Regions from separate parts of the Homo sapiens genome. Here region 2 is linked to region 1. Evidence: fine-mapped expression QTL. Tissue or cell type: monocytes after LPS. Region 1 holds a variant in brackets; the other region holds the start of a gene. All regions are shown on one strand. Distances are from middle to middle. Region 1 has its middle 35 kb from the start of CDC42EP3. Region 2 holds the start of CDC42EP3 (CDC42 effector protein 3).

Region 1 (4,387 bases):
ATTGCTCATTTTCAATACATCTGGCACTCTGGACTTCACAAACATGTTGACTATTCATCAGGTACCTTAGGTAACTGAGAGGAAAAATTGTAAAAGTGTCACGATAGCAAAACACAAGAAGCAGACCTGGTTGTATAAGTCCAGGGAAAATGGGACCTTCTTACCAGAGCCCACACTCCTGAAGACTCTTCTAACCAGAAGTAAACAAAGTATTCAAAGTGAAATGGCTTCCGGGAGTGGGATGCCCACCCCTCTTAACCAGCCATGAGATAAAAATGCATGGGAGAAACTTCTTCCAACCCCTGGATCATCTGAAACCTCACCTCCCCAGGGAGACTCCTTGGCTCCCTAGTCCCCAGCCCCTCCCCTCAGGCGAAGGTCATGTGGGAGGACAGAGCCAAGGCTCTAGATTATGGTATGAAGGGTGTGATCTTGTCTGAACACACCCAGCAAAAACATCTTTGTGTCTCCTGCCCTTGCAACAAGGGCTCTTTTTGTAGGTCAGCTGTTAAACATCAAATGATACATCATTTGTTTAAACATCAAATGATATATTATGAACAATACTCCTGTGGCTGGTGGAATAATGGCCCCCAAGATAGGAGATTCTAATGTCTGGAACTTATAAATGTCACCTTATTTGGTAAAAGGGGCCTTACAGATATGATTAAGTTAAGGATCTTGAGATGGGGCATTAGTCTGGATTATCTGGGTGGACCCTAAATGCAATCACGATTGTCCCTATAAGAGAGAGGCAAAGGGAAATTTGACCAGAAGAGGAGTAGACAATGTGACCACAGAGGATGGATTGATGCATCCAGAAATCAAGGAATGCTGCCAGCCACCAAAAAGTGAAAAAGGCAAGGGACAGATTTCCCCCTAGAGCCTCTGGAGGGAGTACAGCCTTGCTGACAGCTTGATTTCGGCCCAGTGACACCGATTTCAGACTTCTGGCCTCTAGAACTGTGAGACAATAAATTTCTGTTGTTTATAGCCACCAAGTTTTTAGTAATTTGCTAAAGCAATTATAGGAAACTGATGCAATACCCAAGCACTGGAGAGAATACAGAAAAATGGAAAACGTTAAGGATAATGAGGTGGACTGAACTGTGTTCCCTTAAAATTCATATGTTGAAGCCCTAACCCTCAGTGTGACTATATTTGGAGCTAAAGCCTTTGAAGAAGTAATTAAGGCTGAATGAGCTCATAAGGGTGGGACCCTAATTGGATAGGACTCACGTCCTTATAAAAAGGGGAAGAGACATTAGGGATGCACACACACAGATGAAAGGCCATGGGAGGACACAACAAGAAGGTGGCCATCTGCAAGCCAAAGAAAGAGGTCTCAGGAGAAACCAAACCTGCTGGCACCTTGATCTTGATCTCCAAAACTGTGAGACAATTAGTTTCTGTTGTTTAAGTCACGCAGTTCATGGTACTGGCAACTGCAGCCCTAGCCAACTAATACAGAGGGTTAACAGGGAAGACCCCCTTGAAGAGTTAGGTTCTTTAAGGAGATAAGGCCAGGATGACCCCACTTCCCAGGACTTTAGTCTTCCCTTAAGGAGTTTACACTGATTTAGTGGTGCTCTGGCTGGTGACAAGGAAGAGGAGAACATTCCAGGCAAAGGATCAGCAGGAGAAAAGTCTAGC[C/A]CTGCATTAACATTACAAGAAAGCATCTCCCACTACCAGAGCACAAGAGAAAGCTGCTTTCATGTGGCACAGGTTCAAGCAGGGTAACAGTGTCTAATCAGACACAGGTGTGTTGCCTGAGCCCAGAGGCTAAGTAGACTACCTTTAGGAGGGTCACTGTCACTCACAGTTGATCACTGGGGCATAACTTTAATCAAGCGTATGCATGGTGGGCAGACTTAGGGGAGACGGGGGGAAATAAAATATTTAAAACATGTTTTGAGGCTTGTTTCCAGCCCCAGACAGCATTTGATATGGGCAGAGGCCAGATTCAATCCCTGTCATCCAGATAACAACAAAAGAGAGGCAGAAAAGACTGTAGAGAGGATGCTTCATTGTTGCTAGGGAGATTGTCTTCCAGGAGCTCTTTGCCTAAGAAGTGTTTCTTCCACACAGATGCCAGGCAAAGTTAAATAGGCCTTCCCAGTATGCAGAGGGCAAATTGAACAAGAGGCCAGAGAGTTTGCTGAGACCCAACAGTGATGCGGGGGGCGTTTAAATACCATTCAGGAAGCCAAGTGACAGAGAGACAGCCAATGTGCTGGAGGTGGGGCCCCATCAGGCAGTGCTTCCCATATCATGACAAAGAAAATTATGACATTGGGACAGCACCATGGGGAAATGAAAGGGCTGTTGTGGCTGGCCTGGGCCCCACCTACCTGCCACAGGTGCTGAGGGTACAATGCCTCAGTGTCCTCATAGCACATTTGACACCTAAGGTTTGTATTGTGGGAAGCCTCTCCTCAGAGTACATCATCTCACTGGCCCCTGGCTATTTACGGGACTACCCTGTAGCTCTCCTGAGGGCTCCGAGTCCTCTCTGAAGGCACAAGTGGGTGAAGGAGTGGGGATACCAAATGTCGCACCATGTGAGACATGACTGCCCTGGTGGCAGTGGGGGTGGCAGTGAGTGGGGCACAGCAAATCCTCCACCTCTAACAGGGGTGATGTGGTTTGGCTACATCCCCAGCCAAATCTCATCTTGAATTGTAGTTCCCGTAATCCCCACGTGTCATGGGAGGGACCCAGCAGGAGATAATTGAATCATGGGGGCAGTTACCCTCATGTTGTTCTCATGATAGTGAGTTCTCACAAGATCTGATGTTTTTATATAAGGGGTTTTCCCCCTTTGCACTTCTCTCTCCTGCTGCCACGTGAAGGACATGTTTGCTTCCGCTTCTGCCATGACCATAAGTTTCCTGAGGCAACCCCAGTCCTGCAGAACTATGAGTCAATTCAACCTCTTTCCTTTATAAATTACCCAGTCTCGGGTATTGCTTCATAGCAGTATGAGAACAGACTGACACAAGAGGTGAATAAACCCAGAGCAAACCCAGAAAGGCCTGGGAGCCCCAGGAGCCAACTGGTGATTTAAGAAAGAGCAGAAGTGTTCAGTGTGACAGAGATAAGAGAAGGAGTAGAACTGAGACTCTGCCTCTGACTACATGACAACAGTCTTTACCAGTCTCACTGACTGGGGGCTTCTGCAGAGAATATGCTCGAGTCCCTACCTCTGAAAAACAAACACAGCCCTGCCTCAAAAACGTGAGCCACTTCCACAACCTCGAAAGGGGCATTTACACCAATGTCTCCATTTGCTCACCTCACATTCACTGAGTCACTTTCCTCCAGATCTACTGCCACCGTTCACTGAAGCTGCGCTCAGCAGTCACCAATGAACCACCTTCCTAAAGTCACAGATGTTCCCCACCCTACCTCCCTTTCTTCTCTTCTCTGCAGCACTTGACTCTCCAGGGCACTGCTGCTCCTCTCACTCCCTTCTCTCTGGTTTTCCTTCTCTCCCACCAACTACACCACTGTGAATCCTTCCCGGTTCTTCTTCGACTACTGACCCCATTGCTACCACGCACCCTAGGGTCATTCTCATTCTTCTGTTTGGTGATGTCTTGTTTCAGAGCTTCAACTGCCATCTATTTTCTGATGACTCCCACATCTCTATCTCCTGCCCAAATACAACTCCTGGGCTTCAGACCTGAATATCCAGATGAGCCCTGGACATCTCTGCTTGTTTGGCCTGCCAGAACCCCAAATTTACCATATTTCAAATCAAGTTCACCACCAACAAAAATATGCTTCCATCCTCCTTCTCCTGTGCTTGTGAGTGACAATACCATCCAGCCAGCTTCTCAGGACAAAACCCGGGAAGTGACTCCTTTTTCCACACAACCCTCTTCTTTTGCCTCCTAAATATTTCTCATGTCCAATCTCTTTTCTCCAATCCCACTGCCACTGACTCCATTCAGGCCCTCATCATACCTTGCTTCTATTATATAGCAACAGCTTCCTAACTATTTCACTGTCTTTAGAATGACCCCTGCCAATGTTTTTCCTTTTTAATTTTGAGTGATGGGCTCTAAAAATATTTTTTAGATACTATATTTTAAAAAATATTTTAAGCTTCTCTAACTGAACATCTAAACCCATAAAGTCCCTAATTAACAACCTTCAGAAACTCTCCTTTACCATACAAAGCCCAAATTCCTAAACAGGTATACAAGGCCCTCCATGAACTGTTTGTGCTAGTGGCACAACCTGGATGTAAAATCCAATGAATAAATGAAAGTCAAATACTCACTCTGCCCAACACCCTAATATGAATTAGGAATTCAATTCCACAAAGAAGGTGGAATTGAATCTATGCTGCTAAGGGTAAAGTGGGTTAGCTGTATTAGTC
Region 2 (4,387 bases), 35 kb before region 1:
AATAAATTAATATATAAAATATATACATTAGTGCCAAATGGAACATATATTTTGAAATATGAAACCCAAGTAAAATGCTCAGGAATCTGGAGTAGAATCCAGGTATCTGCCAAAGGAAACTTTGGACGAGTTGTCTTTTGAAGAAGGGAAACAATGCTGGGTCTCTTATCTTCACGGACTGTTTTTGCTTGTCAAACTTCTAACATCACTTCAGCCGAGTTTCGTATTTGACTTCCAACCTCATGGCCATTTGACCTGCCAACTACTATTTTTCTTTGAGGCTTTTAACACCCCACCCAAGTATTTTGCTTTCCAGATTGTGTGCGTTTCCTTTTCACTTCACCTTAAAGTCAGCCTGGGTTTACAACATCGGCTTAAGGCGCACCCTCTAAGGTTTCAGACAGACCCAGGGCACCGCGGTGATGACCTGAAGCTGATATCTCTCGGCAAAGCCAAGGTATCCGGGAGGTTCTCCGCGTTGTGCCAGGATTTCCATCCAACCCGAGAGTCTCAGGGCAGAGGCCAGGCCCCCAGCGTCCGACTCCCAGGGGTCCCAGCCCCCTCCCCTGGCTGACCATGCGGGCTGGGACCTCCCAGCCGGAAAACACCGCCCTTTCCTGTCGCCTACTCCTTCCCCAGGCCGACGACTCGCGGAGGAGGAAGAGACGGAGGCCGATTAAGAAAATTAGCATTCATTAACCCGGTTCACGCTCCGGCCCCGGCGGAGGGGAGGGGCGCGCCGGGCGGCGGCGCTGGCGGTGGCCGGGTGACCGGCGGGCGCAGGTGCCACCGCGGCCTGAATTTTACTCTCTCGGGCCGGCAGCTGCGCCACTTGCGCCTCGTCGCGCGTCTGGGGCAGCCGCCACCGGCTTGCCCCAGCTTTAGGCAAATCCTTTTGAAAGACCCTGAGGGAGAAGAAACGCCTCCCTCTGGGTAGGAGAACCTGTAGCGTCTGCTGTTCGTCGCGTGTCCAGTTGCTCAGCCGGGAGCTCCGGCATCTTCAGGGCGCTTATTCCACTCTCCGGGTTTTGGCTGCAGCTCTGAGGGGAGCGAGCTAGAAACTGACAGAACGCGACCCTCCCCCTCCGCGCCCACCGGAGCCCGGGCTGAGAGGGACCTGGGGAGCTGCGGCCTGGCCGGGGCGGCGCACTCAGGTGGCCTCGCTTCCCTGCGGGTCACCGCCCGCCACTCGCACAGCTAGGTCGGCCTGTTGGGATCGGGAGAGGTGGGCGCACGAGTTTTAGTGCGGGAGTCCGGGGTGCGGGCGGAGTCCTATTGTCCCCGTGCACCCGGGCGGCAGCACCTCCGGGTCCCTCTTTAAACCGAGCGTCCGGCGACCTTTCTTTGTGCTTAGGGAGTCGAAAGCGGCATCTTCTCCGAGAGAAGTCGCCTACTGGGGGGTGGCGCTGGGGAGGTAACAATGGGCGCCCATTGTCCTCCGAGGGTCCAACGGTGACCCCCCCCCGCGCGCGCGCCCGGCCACCGGTTGGCCCCGGGCCAGGGCACAGGTACCGCGGCTGGGAGGGTCGGCCCCGCTGCCCGCGCCCTCCGCCCCGCCCCAGTGAGTCCCCGCGCCGCCGGCCCCGCCCCGCGCCGCCCCGCCCTCCGCAGGTTCAGTCCTCGCGTCCGGCCGCCCCGCGCTCAGTCGCGCGCACCTTCTCTCGCGGCCGGGGGACCGCAGCGCGGGGCTAGCCCGGAGACCCGGCCACCGGCCTGGGGCGCCTTCACGCCGTCTCGGAGCGGATAATGCGGTGAGCAGGCACCACGCCGGCAGACTCGGCTGGATCTGCGCACAGCGGCAGGGATTGCGTGCGCCCGCGGGAGGCCCGGGGCAGCGGCTGGGATCCTCAGCGGCGGCCGGTGAGTCGGGGCAGCCCAGGGCTCCTTCCTCTCTACCTGTCTGTGAGTCTGTCCCGCCCGCGGCCGTGGCCGCTTCCGGCGTGCGCTGGTGTTAGGCTGGGAAACCAGCAGGGAGTCGGGATACCCAGGGCATCGCTTTCCCATCTAGTGTCCAACGGAACGAAGGGGACATAAAGCAAGCCAGGAGGGGGTCCGGCGGCACGACCAGGACTCAGAGCTCCACCATTTGTGCCCACTACTTTTCAGGGTGGGGCTGCGCGGCCACATTGCACCCTCCGAGCTATTGGCAGAGCCATTCTGGGCGCGTATAGCATTTTTCCATCTGAGAACAAGCCGCGCTTGGCTACCGCGCCCCTCGCATCATGGATTGGTACCAGGGCCGCACATGGGTGCATCGCACAGCTCTGCCGTGGCATCGCCTGCCCGGTGCCCTCCTCTTTCTTAATGGAGGACATTGTTAGTGGGGCGCCAACCTGCAGATCTGGATATTGACTTTTTTGTTTTTTGACGGTGAACAGCTGAGACGTTTACAAGGTTTTTTGTTTTTTGTTTTCTTCCCTTTCTCCTTGAAACTAAGTGGCTTGACACAGACAAGTATCAGACATGTGAGGATGAATGGATCTGGCCATTTTTTCGTTATGAATTATTATACTCTATCCCTCTCTCGACTTTGGGAGGCATGTGTTTCATCTTATAAATAGAAAGTAGCATATTTTTGGGCAGGATCTCCTTTATACTGTGCAGTCTAGGAGAGGTCAGTTTAAAAATAAATATGCACTTGAATGTTACATTACTGAGAGCCAGGCTGTGGCTGGGACAAGCTGCGTGGACAGCAGCATCAAAGCCGGGAGCGCAGCTGTGTTGAAAGGAGTAAAAGCCCCAGAGTGCAGCCTAGGCTGACAGTCAAGTAATTACATTTTGTTTAAAAAAAAAAAAAAAAAAAGTGAGCGAATTAAAATGAGGAATGTCAGGAGGGTATTGCAACATGAATCTTTCCAGCCCTGGCGTATTTGGAGGAGTGGGCTGCTGCTGTGTGCTGAGGTTGTAGGGGGGCTCTAGGGAGGGAACTGATGAATGTGTTAGGGAGACAAAGATTCCATCCCCATCTCCCAGCTCTTAATTCTCACAATATCCAAGAGTTTCTTGGGAGTACTGCCTTTTAAAAGGAACAAAAATTAGGAGAGCAGCAGATGTCTGTATTTTAATAGCAAAGCCAGTTTTAGGGACTTCCTGTTAACATCACAGGGAGAAAAAAGACTCACCAGGAACCAGCGATGATGCCCCAAAGGTATCCCTAAGACAATTTAAAAGGCTCCTGTAATGTTCTAATTTACACAAGCTCTTTCATCTTAAAACCAGGAAATGTACCTTCTCTTCTTTTCTGGACAGTTCCAGAAGTCTACTCTTTCATACCCCCTGCAATTTGTGTGAGCTCTTATTGGTAGTTAATAAGCTACACAGGTATGTGTGTGATGCATACCCTTTTCAGAATAGATTTAGACACTCAGAAATAAGTTGGAGTAGTTGTGAAATATTTAGCATTTTCATATGTGAAATAAATGATAAAGGCCCTTTCTATAGTCAAGGAATGGTTGAAATTCTTCATAAAGTCTCCCAAAGAATGCGGGTTTCCCAATGGGCCTCACCCATTTGAATAAAACAGCACCAGCCTCTGGGCTCACAGATAAGAACTTTAGAGGAGAAATTTGGAAGCATTTCTGGATCCATGGCAGTTTCTGTTTTCCAATGGCATCATCTGCTAGAGATTTACATGATGAATTCTATGATTAGAACATGGTGCTGAGGCTGTGGCAGCAGCTACAGGCTTGAAATGAGATGAGCTCCTCTTTCCCTCAATCTGAGCAGTGAAATTGTTTCACGTATCTCTATGGAACAAGTAAAAGCAGCTAGAGTAATAAGTGTTGCACACTTTTTGCTTTTTATTGCACATTTAAGTGCGGTGCAAGATGAATAAATACAAAGCCGTAACAGTGATTGCAGAAGGGCTCACATGAGTTCATTTGCCCTGTCTGCGCTCCAGCCTTTCCTTTAATGTGGTGTTTTGTTTTATGTCCAACATGCTCACAAAAGCTGTGCTTTTTTCATGTATAAAGTTCCTGGTATTCAACAGTGTTGGGGATAAAATTGCTTTCACCTGTATCACCCAAAGATTTTTTTTTTTTTTTTTTTTTAGCCAGGCCATAGATTTTTCACAAATTCTTTGACCATTAACTGTAACATTTATCCAGTGGGTGGAATATAATTCGTAACCTAAAAACCTCCAAGAAGACTGCTCTGATCGTATTATTATTATTATTATTGTTATTCAGATTCTTGCTTTCAGTCAGATTTTATCTAGGCCCAGTCTCATTTCTTACTAACCAGAATCCTGTGAACCTGTATTTCTTTTCATTGATTGAATGAGAAATCTATTTTTAAATGCAGTATGTTTGCCAGAGAACAAGGATAGCCATTTGAAAATACTGGATTCAGCCAGCCACAAAATCTTGTGTGCCTCACCAAGCCA

Evidence for each region.
Region 2: CDC42EP3 starts here. The variant in region 1 is fine-mapped to the expression of CDC42EP3 in monocytes after LPS (Quach 2016, PIP 0.95).

What each region holds. Positions count from the first base shown.
Region 1 is chr2:37,634,193-37,638,579 of GRCh38, reverse strand. No RefSeq gene overlaps it. Among named protein-coding and RNA genes, the nearest start is that of CDC42EP3, 35 kb to the left of the region's middle. RefSeq lists an enhancer at 2,687-2,916. The variant C/A (reference allele first, on the strand shown) is at 1,654.
Region 2 is chr2:37,668,899-37,673,285 of GRCh38, reverse strand. CDC42EP3 (CDC42 effector protein 3) reads left to right here and starts at 1,644. Exons shown (of 2, transcript NM_006449.5): 1 at 1,644-1,860. RefSeq lists silencers at 666-835, 1,056-1,125, 1,136-1,195, 1,366-1,855.